Linked DNA regions of Homo sapiens. The protein of the gene in region 2 interacts with the protein of the main gene of each other region in a pairwise test. Each region holds a gene or a part of one and is shown on either strand. Other genes may lie near its edges. The genes, in order: TJP2 and EPB41.

Region 1 (11,048 bases), on a different chromosome or scaffold from region 2:
TGGTAAATGTATTTGTAGCAAAGTACCACTGCATATCCTGCTTGAGAGGATGAAATTTGATTATTTAGTAAGTTTTCATGAACAACTCCACTTCAGTGTGGGGATTACGCAGATGAGCAAGAGCGTGGCTCTGTCACACAGTCCCGTTGGGAAAGCCTGCAACTCATTAAGAATCCGATGAGTGCCATTTAGAAATGTGGACAGGGTACTGGAGCTTCCTCATTGTGGGGAGATGGCAGAAGCGGAGGTGCTTTACTAAAGCACCGGTGGCTTTTGAGGTGTTTCTTGTGTTTTTTTCAGAACTACTTCTGCAGTGGGGCCACTTTATTTCTTTTCAGAGCTACTTATGCAGATTGATGAAGGGGAACTTTCCCCTCTGAAATGCTGCTGTAACTTTTTCAGTACCATCCAGATATTATAATACTGAATGAGCCCCTACTCCTGCCAGTCACTGTGGGGGATACAAAGATGAACAAGATTCAATTTCTGCATTTAGGGGTCTAGTGGACCTGAAACTGTTAGACTTTACTCTGCAATCTGTGTCGGGATTCCTGAGACTGAGGGAGGGAATGTATGATGCCGATGCACACTCTGCAATACAGAAATTTAGCAAAGAGTGGGATTGGTCCTATATGCATTCCCTTCAGGGGATTCTTGCTGGGAATAAAGGGCATTTGAACAGTTACCTCACCCGAGCAAGCCACTATAGAAAATGGGGCCAGTAATGCGCCCACCTCACCGGGCTGAGTGAGGTCTGAATGAAATGACAGAGAGTACAAGGCATGTGGTGGATGCTACGTAAATGGTGGTAGCTAGTAATAGGAACAAAACGGGTGCTGAAAACTCTTAAGTGTTGGGTCCTGGGTTGATAAGGGAGGTGAGATCTAAAGATACAAGTAGGAGGTGCCAGGTAGGTGTCCAGGAAAAAACTGAAAGAGTTGTTGTTCACACTCTGTTAAAAGGCCTTGAAGGCCATAACGAAGCTTTGGGTGGGGGGAAGTCAGAAATCCCTCATGTATTAAATGACTTGACTTTCCCTACAAAAGAAGCGAACCAGTTTCCCAGTAAACATCCCACCCCATAACTATTTTTGAGGCATTCATAGGCTTAAGACCAATGAATTTTTACATCACCCCCGGGGGAATTGCATTTGCAATGACTTCTGCCTACATTTAACTTTTGATCTAGTTCTTTGTACACTGACAAAAGTTCACAGCCAACCATTTCTCTTCAGGACAAGTGTGAGAACTTTCTGCATACTGCTGAAGGCAAGGGAGATTTTGAGTTTAGCAAGGTTTTCTCTCCTTAAGAAGGTTATCTTTTTACGAGACACAAGTTATTGAAACTAGGCGGGGCCACTTTAGTCCTGTGTACAATAATATGTGTAGTAATATAAATAGTAATTTAAAAAGTCATGCAGACTTGGTTGGGGAGAGGCATGAAGTTTGGGTGTGGTGGGGGCGGGGTGAAGCGGTAGAAGGGTTCGCAATCACTGCTGAAACTTTCAACATATTCTACCAACAATATGAGCCACCAGGGAATTCCTTGCCTCATCTCTAGAACGAATCCCATTAAGCAGTTGTGGCTACAGATGAATTTATCTAGGTTGAGAGCTGATTCCCAATAACATGCCTCATTGATTTGACTCTAAGCAGTAATCAGGGGCCCAACAGTTGTTGGACCAACCAGCCTTGATTTTCCAGAGAAGGTGATTTGGTATATGGTAGTGTCTGAGGGTGAGATTGCCCCAGATGGGAGTGGAGGGAAGCAGAACAGTTTTCTCTGGTGTTTTACTGAGTTTTTGTCTTGATCCTAAATCCAAGGGTTAGGGTCAGAAACACAGACTCAGAGGTTAGATTTAACACCCATTTAGTGGGTTAAACACATCAATGGTTATGTGAACTTTGTTAAGGTTTAAAAAGCTATTTAGGGCCTGTTTCTCCCTCATAGGAATTTTTGCAATCAGCCTTTTTAGTAGATGCCCATATAGAAAGTGAATTTGGGAGGGTCTAAGGTGGTATTACTATTAAACTTTTTGAAAAGGCTGTGTGATAGCAATGGAAAAAAAAATTCAGGCATGGAAATCCAATATGCAGTATTGCAGTAGCTAGTTTTAATTTTATTTTTGTTTTTTTGGTTTTTTTTTTGGAGATGGAGTCTTGCTCTGTTGCCCAGGCTGAAGTGTGGTGGTGCGGTCTTGGCTCACTGCAACCTCTGCCTCCCGGGTTCAAGCGGTTCTCTTGCTTCAGCCTTCAAAGTAGCTGGGATTACAGAAGTGAGCCACCGTGCCCGGCCACTAGTTTTAATTTTGGATGGTACCTAGGAAAGCAGTTGAGCTAGTATGCTGCATACATTGTAGTGTGAGAGGCAGAGTTCCGAGTTGGAGAGTGTCTGCTTCCACTTTTTCCATTTGATTAGGAAAAGCACTTCTTAGAACTGGGTGACTGACAGCTAGAGCCCCAGAAGACCTGCACAAGCTGGGGCAATGGCTACCCATAACAGTGACGGCTCCATTCTGTTTTTTAAAGGGATTGGTGTCTCTATCATCCAGCTGGCCATTAAACAACCAAAGCTTCATCATCCTAGATAACCTGTGAGCTCTCAGAGGAGACAGAGTAAGGACTATCATACCCCCAAAATACCTAATCATTTAATAAAGCATTTTCTCTACCTTTTATGCTATCCCAAAACAGTGCTTTCCAAAGTCTGGTATACAGACAGACTTACAGGTGGTGCAGAGAGATACATATTCTATTTTTCAATTATGATGCATGAATATTATATGTTAGGAATAAAAACAGAAAACCAGCTACCACATCCATTTATTTCATGGCTAGATTGCTTAGAATGAGGCAAAAATAAATATTAAGTAAAGCAGTGAGTTTGCTTTAAGAAAAATTATCAACTCTGGGAATGAGTAATATGAGGCTAAGGCAAAAATGGTAAAGCTAGCCCTTGACATCTGAGGTGTGCATAATACTGCTTAAAATATGAGTGTGGTGCTTACTTATAGAGAGCCTGGTATACCTTGACCACGCCTTCAAGAAAGTCAAACACAGAATGGCCCAGAATAGCCAGGAAAGTTGAATTTGATGGACTTTCTGTCTTAAGCGTGTGCATCCTGCTCTTATCCACTCAGATCTCTTAGATGTGGTTGCAGACAGTGTATTTGTAGAGCTAGCTGTTTGTTTTAACGTCTGGCCCAATTCTCATTCCTTTCTCTGCTTCCACAAGCCATTCTGCAGTTTTTAAAGGTCTGTTGGTATGATATTTTTGATATGATAGAGTGATAGGGGAGGAAGTATTTTGACACTGATGAAGGACATCACTGTATTATCAAGTGACTCTTGCTCATGATTCATTGCCGAAGAATGTGGACAGCCAAACAGCCTCACCTGTAAATGCATTTAATTTCTCAAAGTCTTTCAGAAGAATGCCAACTGGATGAGTTTTTTTTTCTTATTTTTTTTTTAATATGAAGCTTGTATTGGTCTGTAAAATAGGCTTTAACAAGGATTTTCGTAGGAACAGGAAGCCTTGAGGTAGAAAACAAGTATCCCTGCTTTGACCTAGAGAGATGCATGCTCATGGCAGGCGAATGAATCAAGGAGAAGAGAAAATACTGTTTCAGTAGACTCTCTAGTGATGTGTGTGTTCACACCATTTATGAGAAATCCTAAGCTTTCAATTAGTAACTTGTACTTTAGTCATTTAAAATCAGCACAGATGTTTGTTTAGTGCCTCTGCCAGATGGTTAAAGTTAAATCAGGTTTTTTAACCTGAAAAACGTAATGTAGCTTTCCTTAACCATTTACACACCATTGTATATTGCAGACCATAGTCAGATACATTTTGTTATAATGAATGTTTATTTTACCTTTTAGCTCAATTAGAATATCAGTGGTTATGGTTTCTATTTTGTTTTCCTACAGTTACTGTATGGGGGTGCAGTAACAGCGGTGGTGGTGAAAGTAAGTTACTTTTTTCTTTTTCTTTCTTTTTTTTTTTTTTTGAGACGGAGTCTCCCTCTGTCGCCCAGGCTGGAATGCAGTGGTGCGATCTCGGCTCACTGCAAGCTCCACCTCCCGGGTTCACGCCATTCAGCCTCCCCAGTAGCTGGGACTACAGGCGCCCGCCACCACGCCCGGCTAATTTTTTGTATTTTTAGTAGAGACGGGGTTTCACCATGTTAGCCAGGATGGTCTTGATCTCCTGACCTCGTGATCCACCCGCCTCGGCCTCCCAAAGTGCTGGGATTAGAGGTGTGAGCCACCGCGCCCGGCTGAAAGTGAATCTCTTAATGGATCTTCCATGAATCAAATATTTGTGTTTTAGTAAGTTAGGCTGACCAAAAGATTTCGAATCATACCTTTAATCATGGCAAGGATCTTATGTCACATTCTTGAGTACACATGTTCACTAAATTTTACCTATATGTGTATGTGAACATGGACTTCAGAATTAATTAGTGTGGTAATTATTATTTCTATTGTAGACTTTAATCAGCCATATTAAATATATGCATTATGTTCACAGAGAAAACATGGTATCATCTTTGGAAACTTTACAGTATGCTCTATATTATAGATACCCTATATAACTATGGTACTAAACACACGAGTTAGTGACAAGTCAGGCATTTGGAGGGAATGTTTGTAACCCATTGTGGGAGAGAGTTATTAGAATAGTTATTCTTACTGGTAGGTAACAGTTATGGCTGTAATGAATAGAATGTGACTAAAATCCAGTTATGCCTTTGCCATCGTATTAAAAGCTTTGGTGGAGACGTGAGAACATTGCAGATACTTTGGATTTTGTCACTTGAGTTGAAGGTAAACAGAGAAAACAGTACTTTCTAGTCATCAGTAGGAATTAACTCTTCCAGGACATGTAGCTTCAAGGACCTTCTAGGTTCTTCTGAGGGGGAAATAATGTTCCACTTGGGGCCATTTTTTTCCATTTGTTGAGAGTCATTTGTTTTCAGAGTATTAAAGGAAGTGTTCCGAGTTCTAGGTTGTGTTTCTTTGATGCCTACTAAAGCTGAGCACACCTGAGACCCTGGGTGGAGCTCTACAATGGGAATAGGAGTAAGTAATGTAGGCTTCGAGAGACAATCATTCTGCTCTCAGTCCTTGGAAGACTGTTCCTAGGTATATATGGCAAAGCAGATGAAATTATTTGAGGGAATTAATTAGCAAAACTAAACATTTCTGTTTTTGAAAGGAATGAATCATTTGGAAGGAACTTCCTGGTGAGCTCAGTTTTAGCAGCCTGGTTTCTGCGTTACCCTTCTGCAGTCTGGCTGAATCAATTGTGTTCTTGCCTGTGATTGGTGAGGATGCACATGCTAGTATTTATTCTAGCCCTTATCACTTCCCATCAGCCCTGAGCCCCTCCCTGGTCTGAGTCATCTTGGTAACCCCAGAAGCTAACAGAGCACCAACACATCCACTAAACGTTGGACTGACTTGATTTGGGGCAGGCTTGTTGTATAAGCTAGTAGGAATAAGAGACTAATTGAGAAATTAGGACAGTGGATTCCTGACATTTATATAGTGAGTAGATGATCGTTTGTTAGAATTGCGAATTTCATCCAGAGAATTTTGTCCAAAAAAAATTATAGAATTTCATCTAGACCATTTTTGTAATGGCATGGAAGCAGCATTAGCTGCACCACTGATTAGCTGGGTGGCTTTTGCTGTCTTGTGACTCTAGTTTGCAATTTCTTTTTTTTTTTTTTTTTTTTTTTTTTGAGGTGGAGTCTAGCCCTATCGCTGAGGCTGGAGTGCAATGGCCCGATCTCAGCTCACTGCAACGTCTGCCTCCTAGGTTCAAGCGATTCTCCTGCCTCAGCCTCCCAAGTAGCTGGGATTACAGGCACACGCCACCACACCCTGCTAATTTTTTGTATCTTTGGTAGAGACGGGGCTTCACCATGTTGGCCAGGCTGGTCTCGAACTCCTGAGCTCGTGATCCGCCTGCCTTGGCCTCCCGAAGTGCTGGGATTATAGGCATGAGCCACCTCGCCTGGCCTAGTTCTCAGTTTCTTTATCAGAAAATGAGTAGTTACAGTTGATCATCTCAAAGTCTTTTGTGCTTAAGATTCTGAAGGTTTTGAAGTTTGAGTATAAAGCCTAGAGAACATTCTAAATTATTTCCATTGGTTCTTCTCATCTTAAAATGTTTTTGTGCTCCTTAAACTACGTTTGTGTTTGCTTGCTTGCTTTCTTTTTTTTTTAGAGATCCAGTGGATTATCTCTGAAAAGCATTTTTTAAAAAGACAGAGTCCAAGAGTGGCTGGTAGTTGTTTTGCTCATAAAGTGATGGAAAGATCTATTATTCAGTTGCAGCTTAAATTATGTACCAGCACCACGTGTGCTGGATTCTCTTCCTTACTTTGCAGCTTAAGCCAGCAACTGCAACCATCTTGCAGAGCTTCTTGAGAATCCTTCTTCCTCTTCCTCTTCCTCTCCACCCCCATGGACTTCTCCCCGGGCCTCATTGCCTGTGACATACGCTTGGAAGGAGGGGCAGGCCTGCAGCTGGGAGCCCTTTCTGATTTGTTCTTCACAAATGTGTTGAAGATGAGCCTACTGGTCACTGCTGCAAAAAACCACATTGTTCACTGGTGTAAAATCACTGCTGTCATCTGAGTTTCAGCATAACTTCAGGCATGTTGGAGTTTTTCAACGTCACCTCAGGCAGAGCACTTTGCCTTCCTTGGGCTGGTCTGTTTAGTGTCTGGGTGAGTTTTAAGAGAGGAGAGACATTGTGGCATCTTAGACACTCACTGAAATTTTCCAGAAATGGAGCTGGAAACATTTGTGCGTTTCCTTCTGGTGTTATTGTTAAAGCCTAAAAACAAGGGCAAGTGGCAACACATTGAAATGAAGAAGCCCCAAGTTTGCAACACATTGAAAGGAAGAGGCCCCAAGTTCGTTTTGAGCCTAAATTGAATTTTAATCAAAGGTCTGAGAGAAATATTTAGTCTACTTATACTATTTAAGTGCACAGTTTGGCAGATGACTTTGGGCAGTGAAGGATCTGGAAGAGGCAGGAAAGGTAGACTCAATCTGCCAGACTTAGAGCTAAAAAAATTTGCCTGGTATGTTTCCATGAAGAAAATTTTCCTGTAGAAGCAGTGGCACGACCTCTGTTACAAGTCTGCTTATTGATAATGAAGCTTTTTCTGTGTTATCAATTTCGTTGAATTTATATGTATGTATATACATATACACACACACAAATCTCAAGTAGAGAGCTTGATGAATTTCTTTTTTTTTTTTTTTTTGAGATGGAGTTTCACTCTTGTTGCCCAGGCTGAAGTGCAGTGGTGCCATCTCGGCTCACCACAACCTGTGCCCTCCAGGTTCAAGCAATTCTCCGGCCTCAGCCTCCCGAGTAGTTGGGACTACAGGTGCGCACCACCATGCCCGGCTAATTTTGTATTTTTTTTTTTTTTAGTAGAGACAAGGTTTCTTCATGTTGGTCAGGCTGATCTCGAACTCCTGATCTCGGGTGATCCACCTGCCTCAGCCTCCCAAAGTGCTGGAATTACAGGCGTGAGCCATTGTGCCTGGCCAGGGAATTTTATTTATTGTGGTAAAGTACACATAACATTAAGTGTACCATTTTAACCATTTTAAAGTATAAAATTCAATGGCATTTAATACACTCACAGTATTTTGTAAACACCATCACTCTCTAGTTCCAGAGGTAGGTGAATTTTTACATGAATGTATTCACCTGCATGATTACCACCTAGATTAAAAACTAGAATTTTCCATCACTCTGGAAGGTTCTCTCTTGCCACTTTTCCAATGATTACCACACCTACCTAAAAGAGAACTTCTCTTCTGACTTCTCTCACCGTGGAACACTTTTGCTTGAACTTGGGAGAGGACCCATATATAAATAAAATCAACATTTTATGTCTGTCATCTTTCACTCAACCTAACCTCTGTGAAATTCATCCGTATTTGTTGCGTGAGATTCAGTAGTTCTTTTTTGCCACTGAGTCGTATTCCATTTATATGCATCTGTCACATTTGGCTTATCTCTTCTGTTGATAGGTATTTGGGTTATTTTCAGTGTTTTTGCTATTATGAATAAAGCTGCCATGAAAAGCACCTACACATTGCCTTGTGGACATGTACACCCATTTCTCTTGTGTGAATTCCTAGGACCATAGGTTAGGGATTTTTTAAAAAACTTATTTTAGATTAAAAAAAATATTTTTTGAGACAGTCTCACTCTGTCACCCAGGCTGGAGTGCAGTGGCATGATCTCAGCTCATTGCGACCTGTGCCTCCCAGGTTCAAGTGATTCTCCTGCTTCAGCCTCCCAAGTAGCTGGGATTACAGGCATGCGCCACTACACCTAGCTAATTTTTGTATTTTTAGTAGAGACAGGTTTCTCTTCAACTCCTGAGTTCAAGCAGTCTGCCCACCTTGGCCTCCCAAAATGCTGGGATTATAAATGCGAGCCACCACGCCCAGCCAGGTTACAGATGTTTAACTTTGATTCTTTACCTCTGAAGTCAAATAAACCTGGGTGTGAATTCTTTTGTCCTGCCACTTGCTTGCTTGACTTTGAGCAATTTACCTTTTTCTCATGTTCAGTTTTCTCAGTTGTAAAATAGGCCTACCCTATCAGTCATGGTTCAGTCAAGAAGACATGTCATTCTAGCTATTTCAAGGAGAAGGGGATTCAATACAGAGTATTAGTTGCCTTCAGGACAAAGAAAAGGCGAGATGCGCAAAAAATGGAAGCCCACCGCTGGCTTTCTGATTTGCCGCAAAAAAAGTTAGAAAGCTGCTGCCACCCAGAGAAGACTCAGAAGGTCTTGCTTGACCTTCCACCTTCTCAGCATCTCCAGCCTTGAGGCTGGTGAAAGGGCAGGGAATCTGGACATGCTGTAAAGCTCATGTCTGAGGAATCCAACTTTTGCCTGCTACTGCTGCTGTCTGTAGGAAGAAGAAAAACAAATGGCTTCTGCTTTCCTTCATCCTTCCAAATCTCAAACACGTGTACCTCGCTGGTAGAACCCTGTTGGCAAGAGAGATGGGGGATCTCTGGTAGAAACAGAAACTCAGTGCCAGCAAAGAAGAAATGGCATAGATGCCACCTGGGGTTGCTTTGAGGTGCTCAGTAAATGGCAGTGGTTATAATTTATTATTTTCATCATTCCTCAAGAACTGCTGCTGCAGTTCAGACTGATTTCTCTCTCTCTCTCTTCTTTTTTTTTTTTTTTTTTGAGACGGGCTTGCTCTGTCACCCAGGCTGGAGTGCAGTGGTGCCGTCACAGCTCACTGCAGCCTCGACTTCCCTGGCTCAAGTGATCCTCTCACCTCAGCCTCCGATTAGCTGTAACCACGGGCATGCGCCACCATACCTGGCTAATTTTTAAATATTTTGTAGAGATGAGGTCTGTCTATGTTGCCCAGGTGGGCCTTGAACTCCTGGGCTCAGGCGATCCTCCTACCTCGGCCTCCCGAAGTGCTAGGATTATAGGCGTGAGTCACCACGCTTGGGCAGCAGACTGATTTCTTTTTTTTTTTTTTTTGAGACAGAGTCTTGCTGTGTTGCCCAGGCTGGAATGCAGTGGTGCAATCTCAGCTTACTGCGACCTCTGCCTCCCGGATTCAAGCAATTCTCCTGCCTCAGCCTCCCGAGTAGCTGGGATTACAGGTGGGTGCCACCACACCCGGCTAATTTTTGTATTTTTAGTAGAGGCAGGGTTTCACCATGTTGGCCAGGCTGGTCTCGAACTCCTGACCTCAGGTGATCTGCCTGCCTTGGCCTCCCAAAGTGCTGGGATTATAGGCGTGAGCCACCGTGTCCGACCCAGACTGATTTCTGTAACGGATGTTCATTCTTTTCACTTTATAGTCACATGGATGCCACTGTAAGAGCTCCGTGTCACATAAGGTGTTGTTTTTCTGGAAGGGCCTTCCAGATTCTGTATCTATTGCTCTGTGATTCTAGGTACTTTTCTAAAGGTATAAGCTTGAGAAATTAGTTTTCAAGTCTGTAAGTTAATGTAGAGCTGAAAGGTGACTTAATTCTAAGAGTTGCTGCTTTAATGTATAATTTTATGGAACCTAATGAGTGTTTTCTTTTTAAAGTCATTCCACTTTATTATTAATAAAATAAAAGGTAATATATAAATCTGGCTGATAGATGGGGTTACTTTTTTCCCTGTCTTTAGCTTCCTTTGTGTTCTGATAAATGAGATGGAAGATTTTTATCATATTTTGTACCTCAAATCTCTCGCGGAGGGAACACTGTAGTCTACCAAAACAGCTGGCAGAAGTGTCTGTCCTATTATAAGTTTATTTTATGAAACATGAGCTATAATGTAGTCCTTTTTTTTTTTTTTTCTTTTTTTGGAGACGGAGTCTCGGTTGCGCCTGGCTAATTTTTTGTATTTTTTAGTAGAGATGGGGTTTCACCGTGTTAGCCAGGATGGCCTCGATCTCCTGACCTCATGATCCGCCTGCCTTGGCCTCCCAAAGTGCTGGGATTACAGGTGTGAGCCGCCGCGCCCGGCCAATGTAGTGGTTTTAAGACATTTAAAAATCTTGAACCAATGTTGGCAACAGCCTGTCTGTAATGATGTCACATGTGGAAAGAACCGAGTTTTTCTTAACTTTAGAATGTGAATTTTTTCCTCCTTCAAATACTTTTTCCTATAACCCAGACCTATTTTACTTTCCAGGGACCCTACTATTACTGCCCTAAGGTAATTTGCTAGAAATGGAGTGGTCAAGATGTATTGATTAACGTTTTAGGCATACTTCTGTAGTACTACTTCCGAAGGCTCCTTGCAGAGAAATTTGAAGTGATAAGGAAGGCAAATATTCGAAATGGAAAGATAAGTATAACCAGTGACTATTTCAGCCACTGGTTTAGCAGTTCAAGTGAGCTGGCTGTTTGTAAAGCTTGCTTAGTAAATGAATGTGCTAGAAATATATTGACAGAATTTGGTTTTATCTCTTTTTCTCCAGACTTTTAGTCGGCCAGGGCTAACAATGGATGTCCAAACA
Region 2 (11,021 bases):
GACCATCCTAGCTGACAAAAAACCCCGTCTCTACTAAAAATAGAAAAAATTAGCCGGGCGTGGTGGCAGGCGCCTGTAGTCCCAGCTACTTGGGAGGCTGAGGCAGGAGAATGGTGTGAACCCAGTAGACAGAGCTTGCAGTGAGCCGAGATCGCACCACTGTACTCCAGCCTGGGCGACAGAGCAAGACTCCGTCTCAAAAAATAAATAAATAAATAAATAAAAAAGATTGTAGTAATCAAGGCTGGATGTGGTGGCTCACGCCTGTAATCCAAGCACTTTGGGAGGCTGAGGTGGGTGGATCACAAGGTCAGGAGTTTGAGACCAGCCTGGCCAACATAGTGAAACCCCATCTCTACTAAAAATCCAAAAATTAGCTGGGCATGGTGGTGCGTGCCTGTAGTCCCATCTACTCAGGAGGCTGAGGCAGGAGAATTGCTTGAACCCGGGAGGCAGAGGTTGCAGTGAGCCGAGATCACACCACTACACTCCAGCCTGGACAACAGAGCGAGACTCTGTCTCAAAAAAAAAAAAAAACAAAGATTTTAATAATCCAGGGGAGTAGAAGTGTACTCTACAAGGGAGTAGAAGTAGCAGGTCTGGTTGAGATTTTGGACAAGTAGGTTAGAAAGCTGTCCTTTGCAGTACCCAGCAGTAGATTAAAATTTGGAGTGGAGCTTTCGGAATAATCTTTGCTATTTTTCTTTTTTTGTTTGTTTGTTTGTTAATAGAGACGAGGTCTCATTATGTTGCCCAGGCTGGTCTCAAACTCCTGGCCGCAAGCATTCCTCCTATCTCAGCCTCCCAAAGTGTTGAGATTACAAGTGTGAACCACTAAACCTGGCCTCTTTTTCTTTTTTTTTAATTCTTGTTATATCGCTGATCTCATATGACATCTTCTCTTTGGTTCCAGACTGTAAAAGGTGGGATTTCAGAGACACGTATTGAAAAGAGAATTGTGATCACAGGAGATGCTGATATTGACCATGATCAGGTGGGAATGTTGAAGAGATCTGGGCCTGGGAGGGGTCCCTGGGCAGGAAGACCGATGAATACAGGAGTTTGTTTGCCATCTTCATCTGCAAAAAGCCTCTTTGGCCACTCTAGCTCTTAATTGAGAAGAAAGACAAAGACAATCAAAGTAAGAGGCCTGTGGGATGGAGGCCACAGATTGAGGAGCCAGGAAATGTAATGGAAAGAACATGAGCTTTGGATTCCAAGACTTGATTCAATTGCTGGTTCTTAATATATTCTAGCTGTTAACTCTCTGGGCCTCCATTTTGCATCTGTAAGATGAAGATGATAGTATCTCCCTCTCAGGGTTGTTGTGAGAATCAGGTGAAATACTGGATGAACAGCTGGTGGCACATGGTGAGCTCAGTTAAATGGAGCTATTGTTATTCCGAAGGTAAAGGTACCTGAACCCATGCTAGACAACATCAAAACAAAGGGAAGCATGCCCCTACCCTTAGAGAGCTGTAACAGCCGAGAAGACACGAGCGGGAGCATAGTATGGTGGACAAGACACCAGCAGACTCGAAACTTGTTTTCTGCCCTACATCTCTAACTTGCTGTGTGACCTTGGGCAAATCACTTTTCCGCTGATTTTTTTCTCCTTTCCTAAAAGAGAGTGGGTTGATCTAGATAATTTCTGGGCCTGAGTGCTAAAATTCTATATTTTTATGTTAATTGGGTGCTAATTGTGTGCTGCAAGCAATTAGCAAATAATAAGGTCAGGATTAATGTTCCCAGTTCTCTGCTGGGTGAGGTTAGAACAGTAAAGCTGCAGAGAAGAGGGGGTGGAAGAGATTGCATGCAAATGCTTCTGGAATCGTTGACTGGGTTGCTGGAGCAATAATTCTGTGGCCTTTTTATGCTGATATGCTGAGTGCCTTTAAAAAAAGAAAAACTGAGCTACAGTGCTGGCAGTTCCCTTGGAGGCAGGGTTGAGAGTTACAGCTGAGAATAGTGGACACAGGGTCCCAGAAACAAGGCTGCAAAGCCTAAATATCTTGCAGCCTGTTGGCCCAGCTCAGTGGGTCCCGCTGCTTTAGAAGCCTGCACCCACCCACTCAGTCTGGTGTGATCTGAGCCCCTGCTACGTGCTCAGTCTGCACTAGACAGCAAAAGCAATGCGGTGAAAGGTGTTTGAGGTTTGGAGTGAGACAGACTTGGGCTGAATCCTGACTCTGCGACCTAATTGGTTATATGTCCTTGAGCAACTTATATTACCAACCTGAGCTCTAGTTTTACCATCTGTAAAATAAGGATGATCACAGGTTTCTTCCAGGGTCATAAGGGCCAAACACACTTGGTAGCTCAGAGAGATGCTCCAGTGTCCCTCAGGTTTTCTAGTTACTGAGAGTGCATGGAAGGGGTAAGCTATGGTACACTCTGGCTGGCGAGGGAGGCACTTTAAGAACTGTTAAGGAGAAGCAGTGTGGAGCAGCAGGTTTCATAGAGAGGTGGGCGGAGGCAGAGTCACAAAGAGAAGACTTGAGCTGGGCCTGAGGTGTGAGCAGATGGGTTGGGCAAACAGGATCAGGGAGGATGGTCAGGGGCCCACAGAGGTGGTAGTTCTAAGAATGCCATTCATAGAGCCAGGAGACCAGAAGAGGGTTTTCCTTCTTCCCTTGCCCCTTCTAGAGATGGTTCTTAAGAGCCAGGTGAGTAGTCAGCTGGTCATTTCTAGCTGAGTCCTTTTCCATAGGGGAGCCTGCAAATTCAGAGACTGCAGCCCAAAGAGGATGGTGTTTTTGCTCTTTTGACTTTCCCTCTGCTCTCTTTAGCTTTTCTAAAGTAATCAAAGCTCCTCCAGATCCTCAAACAGGGACCCCCTCAGAAACTAAACAACAGTGTGGTAAAGAGGAAAGTCTGATCGACTTGAGTTAAAATCCCTATTGCACGGCTGGGTGCGTTGGCTCACGCCTATAATCCCAGTACTTTGGGAGGCCGAGCAAGGTGGATCACCTGAGGTCAGGAGTTCGAGACCAGCCTGGCCAAGGTGGCAAAACACTGTCTCTACTAAAAATACAAAAATTAGCCAGACGTGGTCACGGACACCTGTAACCCCAGCTACTTGGGAGGCTGAGGCACAAGAATCGCTTGAACCCAGGAGGCAGAGGTTTCAGTGAGCCAAGATCACACCACTGCACTCCAGCCTGGGCAGTGAGACTCCGTCTAAAAAAAAAAAAAAAAAAAAAAAAGTCCCTGTTTCACTACCTACTAGCTATGAAACAGTAAGCTCTTTACTGAAATTCAGTTTCCTCACCTATAAAATGCAAAAAATTACATTACCTTAATGCACTAAGTTGTCATGTTTAAGTAAAAAGTAATGATAATAGTTATTATCTTAATAACAATATAGTTATTAATAAATTATAACTTAATAGAGTTTAAGTAATAAGTAATGTACTTAGGCTAGTGCATGGCATATAACAGTCCCTTGTCCTCTTCCTTCCTTTCTTCTACTTTGGCCAAGGACATCTCTTCCTTTTTCTTGCACACTTCTTTACTTTCCTCTCCCGTCCTGAACTTGCCACTTACCCATGCTGAACACAGATGTTGTTTTGTCCTTTAGATTCACATCTTGAGTGAATCCTCTCAGACCCTCCAGGTATAATGATAGATAATAGATAGGTATAATAGATAATATAGGCCAGGTGCAGTGGCTCACACCTGTCATCCCAGCACTTTGGGAGGCCAAGCCAGGTGGATCATTTGAGGTCAGGAGTTCGAGACCAGTCTGGCCAACATGGTGAAACCCCATCTCTACAAAAAATACAAAAATTAGCTGGGCGTAGTGGTACACACCCGTAATCCCAGCTACTCAGGAGGCTGAAGCAGGAGAACTGCTTGAACCTGGGAGGCGGAGGTTGCAGTGAGCCGAGATTGCACCATTGCACTCCAGCCTGGGTGACGGAGCGAGACTCCATCTCAACAACAACAAAAAATAAAAAAAAAATAAAGGATCATATAACAGATACAGCTATGACCCCCGAAGTCCCTCTCCAGTTCCTAGAAGACAGCGCTAACCTTCCCTGTCCCTGTGTTATCAGTCCAGAAGCCTCCCTATGCAGGATAGGGTGGGTAAGGTAATTATCAGCTTGGCTTAGCCTAAAGCTGCCCTGGTACTGCAGACAGGAGTATTGGATCTGTCAGAACATCAGAGAAATGATGACCACTGCCTTCCTTCGCCATCAGGCTATTTTCTGCCTCATTGCCCTTGTTTCTGTCTTTTGTAGGTCCTTGTACAAGCCATCAAGGAGGCAAAGGAGCAGCACCCAGACATGTCAGTGACCAAGGTGGTCGTCCACCAGGAGACCGAGATTGCTGATGAGTGAGCTCAGGTACTGGGCGTTCCTGCTGGGGCTGAGGGTGCCCACAGTCCCAGCCTGAGAGGGCTCTGGATGGGACCCTCGGACACACTGGGAGCCCATCCCCACAAAGAGGTGTTCACCCTGGGACTTGATAAAGGCAGACGAGAGGCTGATGTGGGAGATATAGGAAATTAAGTATTTGGCTCCAACTAAAGCAGCCTGTAGCAGTGCCAGCATTATTGGGTAAGAGGAGGGACCCAAACTTGGATATAAGCCCCCAGCTACCCTCTGAGTCTTCATGCATCCTGCTGGAGATCCACTTCACCTTCCCCCTCTCTTCTCTCTACTGCTCTGCTTGCTGCTGTCACAGGTCTCTCTTTTTTTTTTTTTTTTTTTGAGACGGAGTCTCATTCTGTCACCCAGGCTTGAGTGCAGTGGCATGATCTTAGCTCACTGCAACCTCCGCCTCCCGGGTTCAAGGAATTCTGCCTTAGCCTCCCAAGAAGGTGGGACTACAGGCATGTGCCACCATGCCCAGCTAATTTTTGTATTTTTAGTAGAGACGGGGTTTCACCATGTTGGCCAGGTTAGTCTCGAACTCCTGACCTCAAATGATCCACCTGGCTTGGCCTCCCAAAGTGCTGGGCTGGGATTACAGGCATGAGCCACCGCGCCTGGCCAGTCACAGGTATCTTTGAGCCAGAACCTGGGAAAGCCAGAGGAGAAAAAACCAAGAAGAGCAGGATCAGGCTGTCTGGAGATGGGTGGGCATGCAGAGCAGGGAGGTAATGGCTGAAGCTCTGAGACCAGAGTAGAGAGCTGGGAGCAGGGAAGCTGCTTTTTGGGAACCAGGGATCCAGATAAATTCATGCCTAAAAGTAATTTTAAAAAGACTTGAAGAAGCCACCAATCTCACTAGGTGGGACCAGGCCCTGTAAACCTGCTCACATCCCCATTGTCACTGATGGCCACAGGAACTTGGCAATGGGACTAGGAAGCTTTTTCCTTTGCAGGATTTTAAATTTTGCTTCTTTGTTTTCTCTAGGAACTAACCTACCCCAACTCTGCCCTTCTCCCATCCAAGAGAAACCAGCAAAATGATAAAGAAGCTAACCTGCCATAGTCAGACTTCAGACTTTCAAGATTATTCTAAATCACCAGAAAATTAATTTCAGTTTCTATTGGGAGTTTATACCAAGAGATTCTTCTAGATCTCATTGATCCTTTTGAAGAGCTTTTTCTATATTAGGATATCAGAATTGTTCAACTTTTCACTCTATAGACTGTTTTAAGAGTTTTGGGGTTTTTTTAATTGGGTGGTTTGTAACCCCTTCAGCCTAGCCTCTCTGCCCATTTATTTCCAACCCCAACAGACACTGACAGGGTCCATGGAATTCTTCGGGAAATCCTCCAAGGACTCTTGTCAGCTGTGTTGGAAGCCAAAGCCAGCTTAGTGGGACTTCCGCGTCTCTCCCTAGTCTTATCCCCTTTGGATGATGGCAGAAACTTCATGAACCAGCCCTTTCTCAGAGCCAGTGATGTGAGTGTATCAGAATGCCAGGGAGGGCACCAGCCCTGATCCACAGACCTCGGAAAGATGCCCCTGTTCCTTTGTTGCGGGTGGTTTTGGTAAGGCAGAGCCCTCTGCTGAGAATGTAGTATTGTTTTTCCCCTCTCCCTCCTGCTTTCTTTTTGGAGCTTCTTTGGGTCAAAGACATGGAAGTTGCTTCAGATATCTGATACTGTGAATGTTTGAACATATCCGTGGCCTTCACCTCTCCAGCTACCCTTTTACCTCATCAGAAGCAGTGGCTCAGCTAAGTGCTCCCCCTAGCTCCCATCTCAGGAGACCAAATCTCACAGAAAAATAGGCACTTTGGGCCAAAAGCTCTAATGGAACATTTTTAGTGGTGATTTGGGGAAGGAAAGTTAATGAGGTTTTTAAAATAAGGTTTTCTAGTTTTGAGAGTGTGCACTTCACACAGGGGAATGGGGTTACTTCTGTCTGATCCTGGGCCTTTCTTTCATCCCAAATGACAAGGAATGTGGCTCAGAGAAGGGTTTTTCTTTTTTGACCTTTCTTCTCTCAACAGGAACCTGCCTGAGGACACCCTTCTAGAGCAAGGAATTGACTTTTAGGAGCCGTTCTCCCCACAAGACACCACATGACAAGGGGTATAAGCCCCAGCCCTGCTCATTCCCACTCACCAGCTGAGGTCTGTCAGGTTTTGAAGGCTTGATTTTGTGGTGGGTTTGGGGCTTAGTTTTCCTTTTTTTCATTTTGATTTTTGAAAGTGAAGATGATGCCCTAATTCCTGGTAAGGATTTGGGGCATAGTTTTTTGTTTTTTTGAGACGGAGTTTCGCTCTTGTTGCCCAAGCTGGAGTGCAGTGGCGCGATCTCGGCTCACTGCAACCTCCGCCTCCTGGGTTCAAGCAGTTCTCTTGCCTCAGCCTCCCAAGTAGCTGGGATGACAGGCGCACACCACCACGCCCAGCAAATTTTTTGTATTTTTAGTAGAAACGGGATTTCACCTTGTTAGGCTGGTCTCGAACTCCTGACCTCAGGTGATCCACCCACCTTGGCCTCCCAAAGTGCTGGGATTACAGGTGTGAGCCACCACGCCCGGCCGATTTGGGGCATTTTTATTTAACAGAACTTCTCTAACCTTCCAACTGCTTCCCACAAACACATTGGCCTCAAGGCTCCTTAGAATCCCAGTTCCAGCTTCCTAAAATAGACAGTGGGTATCGGGCAGCAGTCACTGGGGCTCAAGGGCAGTGAGCAAGAGAAATGTCTAAAGCTGCTTCTCCCAACACCGTCCAAAGTCTCCACTGCCTGAGTTTTGTTTCGGCTGGTTTGAACTCATTTCGGGTGTGTGCATTTTTCTTTTGGTACCCATGTGAGACATGAACAACAGGAGGGAGGGAAAGAGCCCAGGTGGGACGTGGGACAGGCTTAGGGGAAAGAGCTTGTCCTATCTCAGGAACAAAATTATAGGCTGTGGGCAGAGGGTCTGAAAGGTGGGCTTTGGGGTAGTGCCCAAGCCTGGTCGTGTTGCCAGGAGTGGTGACAAGAAATGCAGCTTACATCAAACGAACATGTAGTGCATGCCCACTGCCTGATGGCCAGATGGCCTGTAGGAAGAGCTACCAGGGCTTCCAGACCTGTGGAACGAAGAGGATGGGGAAAAGGCAGAGGGCACTGAGTGTCCCTTTAAAAACTAACCCACTGAATATTCCGTGTGATCTAGAACAGTGTGGCAGCTTTCACAGCACAGGACCGTTCATCGGGGGCCTAAACGTTTCCCTCAGCTCTGTCACCAACTCACTTCTCTCGGCTTCGTTGTCTGTAAATTGGATGAAAAGAGCTCTAATGCCTTTCAGGCTCTTAGAAGCCATAGATTTGGACAAGCCCAGCAAGATGGGTGTCCTTCCAGGCCTCTTCCCCTTTCCTCCATCTCTGGCAACAGTTCTTGGGGTTTGGCAATTGTTTGGATTTTTTTTCTTTCTGCAGTTGTGTGTATGTGTGTTTGTGTGAAGAAAAACAGACTCTGTCCAGGTAGAAATGGTGAGGAGGGGGAAGAGAATTACATTTCCAGGGTCAGAAACTTGGCAACAGTTTTCCTAGAGTGACTCAGACACACCACAGTAACAACTCTCGCTGCAATTTTATTTTAATTTGAGAAATAAAGATTTCCTCCAAGCCACATGAGGACTCTGGCACCCACCCACAAAGCAAGACCTGTATTTATAAGCCGAGGGCTCAGGGAGCCTAACTGCGGGACCCGTCAGGGCCCCGTGACCCATCCCCGTCCCCACCCCCCCCTCCACCGCTGGGCCCATCAGTGTGTGTTGGGGGGATGCTTGGCAGCTGGGGGTGAGGAGACAACAAACCTCGGGAACTGGAGCCAGAGCTGCGGCCTGACTGACGCCTTTTGATGCTCACGGGAAATTTCTGCCCAGGATCTCAGCCCCAGGCTGGTTGTTTCTACAAATCTCTCTCAAATGTATTATTTTGGTGACAAAAATGAAGGAGCTTTGTAAATTTTTTTTAAAATTATGAATCATATCAAGTAGTTGTTTACATTTCTTGAAAAAATAGGAACTCGGGCAGCAGAATCAGATTGGCAGAATCTTTAGACTACACAGGCAATAATCAAGTCTGCTGTTTTGGCCTTTCGTAGTAGAAGTGGTTGTAGTGTTTAGATATCTGTTTGGTCTTGCTTCTTGTATTGCATTTTTTTCAATAAACAACAACAAAAAGAACTCTCTCTGTGAGGATTGATCCACTTTTAAATTTCTCTTCTACCAGCAACTTGGGAAAAATTAAATATGGGTGGGGGAGACCTAAACTCAAGTCATTTTCTAAAGTAAGTTACCCACATTGACCAAAATGCAGCTTCAACGTTGAGTAAAGGGATTTCTGAGAGCTGGCCAATGCCTTTTGCCAGCTGCAGTGAGATTCTGCAGCATAGGCCACGATAAAGGAAGGAGAGAAGGGGCTTCTCAGACTTATTTGCAGAAGGGCCCAGAACTCAGTATGAAGGCATTGGCAGTAGTGTAGCTCTAGAGGGATATACCCCAGATGGCTGAGGGAAGAAAGGGATTGAGGTGGTAGGAGTTCAAGGCTCAGTCCCCGTCCCAGATGGCAGTGGAGAGTCTCATCCCGTGGTCCATCTTCCCAGAGGCCCCACACTCCATCACCAGTGCCGCCTTGGAGGGAGCCTGCCCCAGCCTGTAACATCCCAACCTACCTCCCAGTCTTAGGGGCCCTTGCCCACCACTTTCTTGGGTTTGCCAAGACACTGGGTACATCTCCCAGTCACCCTGGCCTGGACCTCCAGCCCTGTTAGGGCTAAGGCCACTTACAGAGGCTGAAGAAATTCCTGAGGCGAGTCCTCCACACCCCACAGTGAAACGCACCCTCTCCAGCTCACTGAGCCCTGGTGCAGCTGGCATTTCTCTGCCCGCATGCAGGTCAGGATGCCCTTCACAGCTGCTGTGGTCAGAGCATCCATCCCCAGCCTGGGATGTGACTGAAACATCTATTAGACGTTGGGACTCCTGGTCCTTTGGTCCTATTAGCATGGTCCATGCTGCAGCCTCAGAGCAGGCTGTCTCCCCTCTCTTCAGACCCGGGCCCCCAAGTCCCCTCCTCCTCCCAATTTGGCATAGCCCCCAAGACTGAGGCGGTCCAGCCGTGGCCAGCTTCGGTGAGCACAGTCCCGAGCTGCTGGGGCCCCAAGGAGGAGCTCCCCAAGGCCCAGATCCAGAGACTTGGAATGTTCAATGCAGGAGCCAGACGGCTGCACGGTGATGATCACATGGCCAGTCTGCGTCCGTGGACCCCAGGGTGGGGGCAGCCCGGGGCCCTTCAGCGGGTAGCTGTTGAGCAAGGCAGGTAACCCCAAGCGAGGATTAGCGGGCTCTGAACGCAGACTCCGCACTGACGGGACGGGTGAAGTACCCCGACGCGGGGACGGGTCCCAGATTTCTGGCTCTGCGCAGCCTACGGCTCGGGGACTCCTAGGGCCGGGGCTGGGAAGGAGGGCGCAGTCCCAGCCCGGGCCGTCGGGGGGCCGGAGCGCCTGGGCCCGCAGCACCCCCTGGCGGAGCCGTCGCGTCTCCAAGTCTCGGTTCTCATACAGCAGTGTGTTGGCGCAGATGAACACGAACAGGCCGACGCCCATGATCACCGGCCCGAGGAGCCGCAGCCGCTCGTGCGGGCCGTGAGCCCGGCCCCCGCCGCGACCCTCGCGTCGCAGCTCGCTCATCTGGGGCGAGCTGGCATTGGCGGCCCGGGACCCTGGGGCCCCGGCCCGGTGCGGCCAGTAGCCGGCCACTGCAATGCCCATACCCACCAGTACCACGAGCGCCCCCAGCGCCGCGAACGCCCCCGACGGCGAGCGCAGCCGCAGCCGCGCCCGCACCCGCAGAGGCTCGGGCGGGGAGCGCGGGCGCCGGCGGCGGCCCAGGCGGCGGCCCAAGCGAGAGACGCGGCCCTCGGGGCTCCTCCGCACCTCCCCGCATTCTTCGGGGCTCCCGGCCGTCATCTCGCCGTCGTCTGGGCGCTCTGCGGAGAGAAGATGGGAGGCAAGGACTGGACCGACGGGCCTCTAGCTTCAGGGCGCCAGGTTCGGGGCGCAAATCCGGGAGGGAAGCTCCGGCCGCCCAGCCCAGGCCGCTTGGAGATCCCTGGCGGCCACCCCCGGATTTTCCCGGGCGGCGAGGCGGGGAGCCGCCCGCGCTCGGGTTTTCCGCAGCGGAGCTCCGAGCCAGGCACGCGCGGCAGAAGCCGGAGTTGGCCCGGCCAGCGGGCGGAGAGGAGGGAGGGGGGCGCAGGCTGTTCCCTGGCGCATCCCGGGCTGCAAATCTGCCGCCTGCGTCCGGTCCGCAAGCCCGCGGGTCTTGGGCCTCGGGAAACGTGCGGCCCCCAGCTGCCGCGTCTCCAGGGTAAGTACCTCCCGGGCTCGACCCCACCCCCGCACGTGGCTGCACCGTAGCAAATGGGGCGGGGGCGCTCGGGCCTCCCAGGTCCGCAGGGGTCGCTCGCCGGGCCCCACCTCCCCCCTACTGTGCTTTACATACCGCAGCGCGGGAGGAGGGGGCGTCACCGGCTCCAGCCTCTCCCTGCCCGCCCCCTCCTTCCAGACCTCCTCCGCCCGCAGCGAAGCTGCAGCAGGAGCGACTTGAGCTAGAC

The links.
Region 1: the proteins of EPB41 (region 2) and TJP2 interact in a two-hybrid assay, tested with the Homo sapiens proteins (one study listed by BioGRID).

The regions. Positions count from the first base shown.
Region 1 is NC_000009.12:69,175,515-69,186,562, forward strand, and holds part of TJP2 (tight junction protein 2), read left to right. Parts: intron 1-2,528; exon of another isoform or gene 2,529-2,615; intron 2,616-9,572; exon of another isoform or gene 9,573-9,690; intron 9,691-11,048. UniProt on the Homo sapiens protein: Plays a role in tight junctions and adherens junctions. Acts as a positive regulator of RANKL-induced osteoclast differentiation, potentially via mediating downstream transcriptional activity.
Region 2 is NC_000001.11:29,111,455-29,122,475, forward strand, and holds the end of EPB41 (protein 4.1), read left to right. Parts: intron 1-913; coding exon 914-994; intron 995-4,244; coding exon 4,245-4,343; 3' UTR 4,344-4,349; intron 4,350-5,364; 3' UTR 5,365-8,587; downstream 8,588-11,021. Other genes in the region: TMEM200B (transmembrane protein 200B), read right to left, coding at 9,451-10,374. UniProt on the Homo sapiens protein: Protein 4.1 is a major structural element of the erythrocyte membrane skeleton. It plays a key role in regulating membrane physical properties of mechanical stability and deformability by stabilizing spectrin-actin interaction. Recruits DLG1 to membranes.